2 separate regions of the Homo sapiens genome follow, and region 1 is linked to region 2. Evidence: fine-mapped expression QTL. A gene starts in region 2. The other region holds a variant in brackets. All regions are shown on one strand. Distances are between the middles of the regions.

Evidence for each region.
Region 1: its variant is fine-mapped to the expression of SLC49A3 in cerebellum (GTEx, PIP above 0.99).

What each region holds. Positions count from the first base shown.
Region 1 is chr4:278,650-284,026 of GRCh38, reverse strand. All of the region lies in intron 3 of ZNF732 (zinc finger protein 732), which reads left to right. Among named protein-coding and RNA genes, the nearest start is that of ZNF732, 24 kb to the left of the region's middle. The variant C/T (reference allele first, on the strand shown) is at 2,398.
Region 2 is chr4:686,798-692,174 of GRCh38, reverse strand. SLC49A3 (solute carrier family 49 member 3) reads left to right here and starts at 3,024. Exons shown (of 10, transcript NM_032219.4): 1 at 3,024-3,182. The coding sequence starts at 3,048. LOC124900643 (a long non-coding RNA gene) reads right to left here. Exons shown (of 2, transcript XR_007057985.1): 1 at 4,937-5,377; 2 at 4,156-4,703. RefSeq lists enhancers at 1,988-2,037, 1,813-2,760, 2,761-3,709, 4,658-5,377 and silencers at 2,978-3,037, 3,068-3,237.

The DNA.
Region 1 (5,377 bases), 410 kb after region 2:
AGGCAGGAGAATGGCGTGAACCCTGGAGGCGGAACTTGCAGTGAGCCGAGATCGCACCACTGCACTACAGCCTGGGCGACAGAGCAAGACTCCTTCTCAAAAAAACTAAAAAAAACACAAACAAGTTGATATGATTTCAGTCTTTTAAAAAATGAAAAGACTTGTTTGTCTTTGTTGTGGGCCAGATTTATGATGTATGCTAGAGAATATTCCATGTGTGTTTGAGAAGAATATAAATTATTCTTTTGGATGAAATGTTCTATATATATGTCTTTTGGTGCAGTTGTTTTATAGTGCTATGCAAGCAATTGTTTTCTTACTAACTTTCAGTCTGAATGATGTATTAAGTAGGGCAATATAGTCCCCCAGTATTATGTTTTTCTGTTTCTCCATTTCTTTTAATATATGTTTATATATTTATGTGCTCCAATATTGGGTATATATATATTTTTAATTGTTATATTCTTTTGACAGATTAGCCTCTTATCACTATATCATGAAGTTTTTTTTTTTGTGGCAGATTTTTTTTAGAAGTCTATTTTGTCTGATGTAAATATAGCCACTTCTATACTCTTTTAGTTATTACTGGCATGGAATTTTTTTTTCATCCTTGAACCACTAACCTATGTATTTCCTTAAATCTAAAGTAAGTCGCTTGTGTGCAGCATGTTGTTGATTTTTTAAATCTATTCAGACATTTCGCGAGTGTTTTAGTTTATTTTTTGCATCAATAACAATATCCTACAGTTGGTAATTTATAAAGAATAGAAGTTTCCTTAGCTCACAATCTGGGATGCCAAGAAGTCCAAGAGCATGTCATTCCCATCTGATGACAATCATATTTCCACATCACAACACGAGCTCACTTTTATGATAGACCCACTCATGATGACTAACCCACTCGTGGAATAATGATACTGATCCTCTCATGACCTTATAACTTCTTAAAGGCCTCACTTATTAATTTTCTCACAATGGCAGTTACATTTTAACATGAATTTTGGAGGGGGCACTCAAACCATAGCAATGTGATTTTATTGGCTAACTAAATTTTTTTTATATTTAAAGGAATTACTGATTGATAAGAACTTATTACTATCATTTTGTTCATTGTTTTCTAACCATTTAGTAATTTCTGTTTTTTCTTTCATGCTGCCTTCCCTTGTATGGTGTTGAGTTTGTTTCATTTTTCTTGTTATATGCTTTAATTTCTTTTGTGTGTATGTATCTTCAACATTTTTTTTTTTGTAATTTCCAAGGGACCATAAAATATCTCATAGTTTAAAAAGTCTAGCTTAAGGTAACAATCTAACTTCTTTTTTACCCACATAGGATCTTACTTTGTTTCCCAGGATGTAGTGCAGTGGTGGGTTCACAGCTCAGTGCAGCCTTGAACTCTCCAATATCAAACACTTTTCCCATATCAGCCTCCCAAGTAGCTGGGATTACAAGCACATGCCACCATGTCCAGCTAATTTTTTTGGTATTTTTTGTAGAGACAGGGTTTTGCCATGTTGCTCAGGCTGGTCATGAACTTCTGGGCTCAAGAAATCTACCTGCCTTGGCCTCCCAGAGTGCTAGGTTTATAGGCATGCATTATCAGGCCCAACTGCTTCTTTTTAAAAAAAGAATAAATAGCTTTCTGAAATCTTTATTTTATTTTATTTATGTATTTATTTTAGAGACAGGGTCCTGCTATATTGACCAGGCTGGTTTTGAACTCCTGGCCTCAAGCAAAAGTGAACTTCTATGTATAAAAATATTAAACAGTTTTACTCCTTTCAACACACTATTTATGTCACACTTTACATCTTTTTATATTATATACCATTAACAAATTATTGAAGCTATATGCTTTATTCACTTTTTTAAAAAAAGTCTATTTACGAACTTTCAAATGACTTTTAAGTTTGTTGATTTTTCCCCTTCTGTATAACTGAGTCTCCTGTTAAAGCTTTCTGTTAAATATTTTAGTTCTACTATTGTGTACTTCAGCTCCAGCATATCGCCTTGGTTCTTTGTTAATGGCTTATCTTTCTTTATTATCATTGGTTTTCTTCATGCATTGTTGCAAAAAATTTAGTAATATGTGTACTTTTGCATCTTATCGAGATTTTTAAAGATAATTATTTTAAATTCTCTGTTAGCCATTTTTTAGATCTGTGTTTTATTGTTAGTGCTTCCTGGAGCATTTTTAGTTTCCTTTCATGCTGTTATGTTTGCCTGATCCTTCATAATTCATGAGGCTTTGTTTTGATGTCCTTGCATCTGAAGGAGTAAATACCTCTTTCAGTCATTATAGACTAGTTTGAGGAGGTAAATATCTTCTCCCATTGGATTTCTGGGCTGATGAGATTTCCACTGAGGTTGCAATAAAGTGCTTTGGAATCCGGGTCA[C/T]GTAGCTACTACTGGGTTTGCAGTGAAATTCCTGCTTGGCAGACCTGTCATCAGGGCATCAGACAGTTGTGGATTCTATTTTCTGAGAAGACTGAACTTTCTTCAAGATGTTGATCAATATGACTGGCACTGAGGAAAAAAGCCTCCAGTTATATATGCAGATTAAGGTGCTGATACAATCAATGTGAGCAGGTGTGGCTCCTGCTGTGTCGCTCTTGCGAGGTGTTTGGAAATGCTCTAACCTAGTCATTGGACAGGTTCCTAGATGAGCAGTAATGACCCTTGATCACAGCTGAGAGGGTATGAAACTGATTCATGCGGCTGCTTCAGGATACACAGCTGAGACCAAAGTGTTCAGGTCTTTTTCTGGGTTAACGGTATTTCTCCCTGTGGATTTCTAGGTGGGTAGGACTTCTTCCAGACTCTAGATGACAGAGACCAGAGCTTGGTTATAGGACTGCTTTACAATTCACAGTGGGAATAAAGTCAGCCAGCATGCCTACAGGGGCACATACAGGTGTGCTTTTTGGCAGGTCCCAGGTTAGGAAAAACTTCTTCTGGACTTGGTTGCATGGACTTGGAGCCAGCTTATAGTGCCACGTCAAGATCCACTGTCAAATAATTATTGGCAAGCCTACATTCGGGCACAGATGGATGTTTCTCTCTGTGGGTGTCTGGGCAGGATTCCTTCCACACCATGACTGACATGTGTAAAGAGTGGATTTGGGGCTAATTCAGAGATCACAGATAGAACCAACTTCTAAAGGCCTTTCACCTGAGGCATAGAACATTAGAAATTCTCCTAGGTGTCTTTGCAGATGGTGCTAGTAGCAGGAACAAAACCAAATGGTCTGCAGCTAAGTCTACAATGAAAATTGGACACATTTTATTCTGTAGCTGGGACTGTGATGGGCAAGCATGCCACTCAAGCAAGGGCATGCCTTTTCAATACAGCCCTCCTCAGTCTTGGGTTCACAACCCTTGACATGGATTCCAAAGCTCCCATAAATTTCCTTTTTCAGGACATAACTGCTGCTTTTTTTTGGCAGAATTTTTTGCTCTTGTTGCCCAGGCTGGAGTGCAATGGTACCATCTCAGCTCACTGCAACCTCTGCCTCTCGGATTCAAGCAATTCTCCTGCCTCAGCCTCCCGAGTAGGTGGGATTACAGGCATGCGCCAGCCACCACACCCGGCTAATTTTTTTGTTTTGTATTTTTAGTAGAGATGGTCAGGCTGGTCTCGAACTCCTGACCTTGAGATCCACCTGCCTCAGCCTTCCAAAGTGCTGGGATTACAGGTGTGAGCCACTGCAGCTGGCCGTTTTTTTTTTTTTTCTTACTGCTGTACATTGCATGTCAAAGATTCAAAATGCTGGATCTTCATAAGTACATAGTCACAGTTGAAAACTGTAGTTGTTTGAAGGATTGTTTTTATGATACATCTACATCTATATTCTATATTTTATAGGTCAGAATTTTTTATTGTTTTCAAACTCTATTTTACTGGGGAGTCTTTTTTCATGTAGGTTCTCCTCAATTATTTTTTGTTTTTAATCTTCATATTTGTATGGTAATTTTCAACTCTGTACCTTTTATGACCATGTGGTGTTTAATTCAAATAAAAATCATTGGGTTTCACTTGGAGCAATTTAAAATATATGTGTAATTCAGACATTTCTATAGCCTATAAAAGTTATCTATGTGGTGTTTGCCTGTGTAAATAATGCCCCTACCTGGTTTATAAATTTTTCTTTCTGGTGGTCATCACTGTTTTCTTTTATAGGTGAGTAGTCAAAGAAACAGTAAAAAATTACCACCTATTTATTGTTTGAGTATATGTTATTCTGTGAGAGAAACACTTTTTATTTGAAGGTGATTTTTGAAAAATGTAACCTTTTTAGGTAGATGTAAATATTTAGTTGTGATGAAAAACCTAACATTGCTTAAAGGTTTTCAAGTGTACAGCCTAGTGGAGTTAAGTACATTTACATTATTTTGAAATGGATCTCTAGATTAATTTTATCAAAGTAAAGTTCATACCTCATAAACAATAAACTGCCATTTTTTTCTCTTCAGGTCCTGAAGAACACCATTTTACTTACTATTTCTATAATTTTGACTGATTTTTATATTCTTATTGGTGTAATTATATAATATAATGTCTGGTTGTTGTTTTTTTTTTTTGAGACGGAGTCTCGCTCTGTCACCCACGCTGGAGTGCAGTGGCGTGATATTGGCTCACTGCAAGCTCTGCCTCCCGGGTTCACGCCATTCTCCTGCCTCAGCCTCCAGAGTAGCTGGGACTACAAGCGCCCACCACCACGCCCAGCTAATTTTTTTTGTTTTTGTATTTTTAGTAGAGACAAGGTTTCACCGTGTTAGCCAGGATGGTCTTGATCTTCTGACCTCGTGATCTGCCCGCCTCGGCCTCCCAAAGTGCTGGAATTATAGGCATGAGCCACTGCACCCGGCCCCCATGTCTGTTTTTTTTTTCACTATCTCAGTTTACTTAACATAATGTTCTCAGGCTTTGTTTTTGTAAGATTGTCCTGTGCGGGAAACGCGTGAGGGGAGAAGAAAAGACACACACACAATATCTTTAAGGGTAAACAACCTTTATCCCATGTAAATGGCAATGCAGATATATAAGCAAATGATACAATAAGCAAATTGCAATGGGAAGGGGAGAAGGAAAAGGAGATATATATATTTACATTTACCAGACTATGGAGGATTCACCACCAGACTAGGAAGCAATAGCCTGGGCTCCAGAGTCAGACACTACACTCACCAGCCTGTGGAGGATTCACCACTAGACTGGGAAGCAACAGCCTGGGCTCCAGAGTCCGCCACCCTTCCGTGCACAGACGAAGAGAGGTCTCATGTAGCTTCGGCATGGTCTGGGACCCTAGCTCTTTTTGTAATGAGTTGTTTGGCATGAGGCCCAGTCACAAGGGCCCTTTGTGACTGGACTCAAGGA
Region 2 (5,377 bases):
CCGGATCCAAAACTCGGGCAGCTTAGGTGAGTGTGCCGAAGGTGCTTGTGGAGAAATGTAAACAAAACTGTTTCATTAGATGCAAGAGTGGAAAAAGTCATTGTTTCCAAATAAGTGGACTTATACTATGCGATTTTTTAAAAAATTAAATTTTTTTTTTTTTTGAGACGGAGTCTCGCTCTGTTGCCCAGGCTGGAGTGCAGTGACGCAATCTCGGCTCACTGCAAGCTCTGCCTCCTGGGTTCACACCATTCTCCTGCCTCAGCCTCCCGAGTAGCTGGGACTACAGGTGCCCGCCGCCACGCCCGGCTAATTTTTGTATTTTTAGTAGAGACAGGGTTTCATCATTTTGGCCAGGCTGGTCTCAAACTCCTGACCTCAAGTGATCTGCCTGCCTTGGCCTCCCAAAGTGCTGGGATTACAGGCGTGAGCCACCGTGCCCAGCCCATTTAGAAAGTTTATTTTGCCAAGGTTAAGGACACACCTGTGACATAGCCTCAGGCAGTCCTGATGGCACGTGCTCAAGGTGGTTGGGGCACAGCTTGTTTTTTTTTCCTTGTTTTATTTTTGTTTTTTTTTTGTGACAGAGTCTCCCTCTGTTGCCCAGGTTGGAGTGCAGTGGCACGATCTTAGCTCACTGCAACCTCTGCCTCCCGGGTTTAATCAATTCCCACCTTATATAGCCTCCTGAGTAGCTGGGATTACAGGCATGCACCACCATGCCCAGCTAATCTGTTGCATTTTTAGTGAAGACGGTTTCACCATATTGGCCAGGCTGGTCTTGAACTCCCGACCTCAGGTAATCCACCCACCTCGGCCTCCCAAAGTGCTGGGATTATAGATGTGAGCTACCTCGCCCAGCCATGGTTTGTAATTTTTTTTTTTTTTTTTTGAGACAGAGTCTCACTCTGTTGCCCAGGCTGGAGTGCAGTGGCATGATCTCAGCTCACTGCAACCTCTGCTTCCCGGGTTCGAGATTCTCTTACCTCAGCCTCCCAAATAGCTGGGACTACAGGTGCATGTCACCACACCTGGCTAATTTTTGTATTTTTACTAGAGACTGGGTTTCACCATGTTGGCCAGGCTGGTCTTGAACTCCTGACCTTGTGATCCACCTGCCTTGGCCTCCCAAAGTGCTGGGATTACAGGCGTGAGCCACCGCACCCGGCCCATGGTTTGTAATTTTTAGCATGCAAGTTCTGTAGATGGTTTGCTAAGTTTATACCAAAGTATTTAATTTTCCTTGGAGTAATTATGAATGTCTTTAACTTTGGTTTTCATGTTTCTTGTTGGTATACATCAATGCAAGCGATTGTTGTGTGCTGATCTTGCATTCTGCAATGTTGCTGAGCTCACCTGCTCAACCCAAGAGTTCCGACATGTAGGGAGGAGGAGCCCCTCAACAATGCACGCTCAACAGAGACTGAACAATGGAGGTAGCTACAGTGGCTGCCCCGTTTCATGGTGACACCCCTCGACAATGCACGCTCAACAGAGACTGAACGATGGAGGTAGCTACTGTGGCTGCCCCATTTCATGGTGACAGGCTCAGACACCACCTGTCAGAGGCAGTGCTCCACAATAGTGAGGTCCCTCAACAGGGAAGCCTGCACTGCAACTCCCCCTCTGCCAGGTGGGGTTAGGGGATGTTGAAGGCCCTAGGCCAACATTGGCACTGGACTATGGAGGAAGGTTGTGAGGGGGCTGGGTCCTCAGGGCAGGGCGAGCAAGAGGTGAGGAGAAGGAGAACAGAAGGAACTGGTGGGGGAATGGGGAACAAAGATGAGGGGGGAGGCTAGACGGTGGGGAAGGCAGAGGAGATAAAGAGAGTGAGGACCACAGGGCTCCATCACACGTCTCAGAGAATGGAACCCCCTTGGGGCCCACCCATCTCAGGACACCCCGGGTGAGCTCCATTTTCTCTTTGTTACTGGATGAGACTCTACAAAAAAAAAAAAATCCCAAAGTGGAGAGCTCTATCTGAGACACACACACAATCCCTGCAGAAGACTGCACAGTGAAAGCTGGGGCCTCATCATTAGCCTGTTCAGACTCAGGTGTGGAAAATGGACAGGCCCTGGCAAAGGAGATGAATGTTTAAGACAAAAACCACGAATAATACTGTTCAGGAAACGGGGATGGTTTCAAGGGTCAAGAGAGCCTCCCTGTTTGGGGGAAATCCTGTTTGCACGTCTGACCAGGCCAGCCTCCACCCCACCCCTATACTGGCCTCAGCAACAGGGCCTGGAGCCTCTTGGGTTCCCCCAGGGTGGGCCAGGCACAGTTGTGGGATCAGCAGGTTCTTGCAGAAAAGACTAAGCCGAAACTCCCTCCTCTGCCTTCCAACACACAGGCCTCTCCATCCTAAACAAACAGAAACCTGTGCCTACTCCTCTGAGAGCCGTGTCCTCCATTGTAAAATGCAGGTAACAATCCGGTGCGTGTGTGGCGGACTGCCTACCCCAGGGTGGGGCCCACAGGCCTTTCTGGCCTTCCCTCCAGCCTTGGCCTGCAGCCCCTCGCCCTCCTACCCCATGCCTGCTTCCCGCAGGGGCTGTAGAGGGACTGGTCTGATTTGAGGCTCTGCGCAAAGCCAGCCCAGCCTCTTCTTCCAGGCTGGCCTCTGGCCCCTCCCTGTGGCTGGCTTGAACCTCAGGAACTTGGGGTCCACAGCCCCCTTCAGGAAGTGCAGAGCTTCTGCTGGGCAGAGTGACTTCCAGGCCGCCTTTCCTGCTGAGAAGCACACAGGCTGTGACCGGGGCCCTTCCCGGAAGGGACATTCGGTTTTTGTGGCAGGGACTTCCAGCCTGAGGCCGAAGGAGGAGGGTCCAACTTCACCTTTGCCCGCCCTTCCCCCGCTTTTTTGGGTCTCCTTTAACTGGGACGGGGCGGGACCCTCCTCCGTAGTCCTTGGGGCGGAACTGGCCCCCCGTGGCCCGGCCCGGCCCGGCCCCACCTCCGCCCGCAGGCGGTCCCGGCCCACGCGGGAAGGTCCTTAAGCCCGGGCGGCCGGCGGGACCGGCGGAGACCCGTGGAGGCCGCCGACGATGGCGGGGCCGACGGAGGCCGAGACGGGGTTGGCCGAGCCCCGGGCCCTGTGCGCGCAGCGGGGCCACCGCACCTACGCGCGCCGCTGGGTGTTCCTGCTCGCGATCAGCCTGCTCAACTGCTCCAACGCCACGGTAGGGGCAGGGGCGGGGACAGGTGGCTCCGGGACCCTCAGTCCCTCGGACCAGCCGGGTTTTGTTTTCCTGTGGCCACAGCCCGAGGTGCCAGGTGCTGGCTGGGGGCGGGGGGTGCCTTCTGGAGGTGGCTAGGGATTGCGGGCACTGGGGGCACTGTCTGTCCTGGAGGTGGCTGGGCCCAGGGCACAGAGCAGGGCTGGGTGCCCCGGGGGATCTGCCAGTCACGGAGTCCCAGCCCTTCCCAGCCTTCAGTGGCTCCAGCCTGGGTCCCTCTTCCCCAGCCAGTCACATACAGGTGGCCCTGCGTTGGCCCTCTCTCCTTCCACGCCTCCCAGCCCCAGGACAGCAGGCACACAGCAGAGGCGCGCTTGGAGCCGCCCTCCCCTCCACCTGACTCTGAGTGAGGGGCGGCTCCTGGGCTGGGCTGGGTTCCGTCCTGCCCCCACCCCCTTCAGGTGTTGCACGCTGCAGCCTTTCCCGCCCTGTGTGCCCTCATCAGCCATCCCCCGGAGCCTCAGGAACTGGTCAGGCAGTATCTGGCCAACGTGCAATGAACAGCTAGAGTTGGCAGCAGGACCCACAGCTCAGGGAGGCGCCAGGTCACGGGGATGGTCAGGAAGCTCGGGGGCAGGGGCAGGAGTCACTCTCAGGCCTGGGTCAGGGCTCTTCCAGGTGGACCCCGGGGCCTCTCCCCTCCTCCTTTGCTGGCTGGGTATGGAGGGCCAGCCTCTGGCCGAGACAGGCCCGGGATCTGCTGGATGGGCCCAGGGGCTGCCTGCTGCCCACAATGCTGGCACGAGCCGTAACTCACTGCTGTGGCTTGGCGTCCTGGCCCACCATGTCCAGGCACTGGGGAAGCCATAACTGGCTTTGGGTGGAGTGTCTGAGGGTGCAGGGCTGGTTTCATGGTCCAAGAGTCAGTGGGTGTCGTAGGTGTGGGGCGTTCCTTGGACAGTCAAGGGCCTCCTGCTGCAGTTCTTCACTGTTTTATTAATATCCACGAGTCATCATGGAGCACACAGAAATCTCACCCTGACACCAAGAGTCGTCATGGTCTCTGCCTGGGTCACCACAGTGAGCCGTAAGCACCATGTTCACTCCAGCCAAGTGCCCTTGAGGCTGGAGGTTACTCATCTGCAGCCAGTGACCAGGGATCCCGGGTTCCAACCAGCAGCATGAGGGCCAGGCGGAGCAGAGCTTGGGTCAACACCCACCCCGGAAGGCAGCCCAGTGCTCTGGATGAGACTCAAAGGACCCAAGGGGGCGAGCGCAGGCAGGGTCGAGGCTGGGAGATGAGGAAGGGAGTCAGACAGATCGTCCTCCCACGTTGCCCCGCACGCTTCAGACGCATCTCTTCTCAGTGAGTCAGCTGTGGGCCCCACTCAGGCCCCCGAGGAACCAGGACAGGGCTGAGGCTGGAGCGGCGGGCTCGGCTCCGCAGGGTGGGCTTTCTCTCCCGGGCTCGGCCAGGCAGGCACCAGCTGGGCCTGGGGAGCTCGTTCTGTGCCTGGCCCCGTCCTGCAGAAAAAGGAAGACAGGGCGGCTGTTGCCCAAGCTCCCTGTCCTGTCCCGTGGGCTGAGTCAGACCTTGTCCGGGCGGAGCCTGGGTCTGGCTGCTGTGTCCGAGGGTGTGGCCTGGAGCTCAGTCGACTCATGGAAGTTGACCTTGAGTGACACGGCCTCCTGCCTCCCGGAGTGAGCCCCGGTGACCCGCTCCACTTTGGCCTCCCTCAGGGATGAGCCAGTCTCACCTCTCCTAGGAGGCCTTCCCCTCGGCCGCAGCGTGCACTTGTGCTGTGTGCTGGACGTCCGTGGGGTGAAGAGCTCTAGTACTTGATAATGCCTGTGGCTGGGGAATGGTGCCCGCTCTGGCAACATTCTGCCCAAACACCTGGGCCCTGCAGGAGGGAAGGTCAGGCTGGCCTTGGGTGGGGCTGGCCTGCAGTCCCAGAGGTTCTAGCTGAGACCCCGTCACGCCCACCTTTCCCTGCCTTGGAGCGCCAGGTCTGGTCTGGGCAGGGCTCGTGGTCCTGTGGGCTCTGGCCAGGTCCTTGGCCTCAGTGTCTGCCCCCCAGGCTGGTCCCCGGTCAGGGCATGCTCTCTGACCCTGCGCTGGGTGCCCGCCCTCGGGGGAGGCAGGGTGGCGCTCTCCTTGGGCAGGAAGGCCCCGTGTCCAGCTCGCTGTGTCCCCT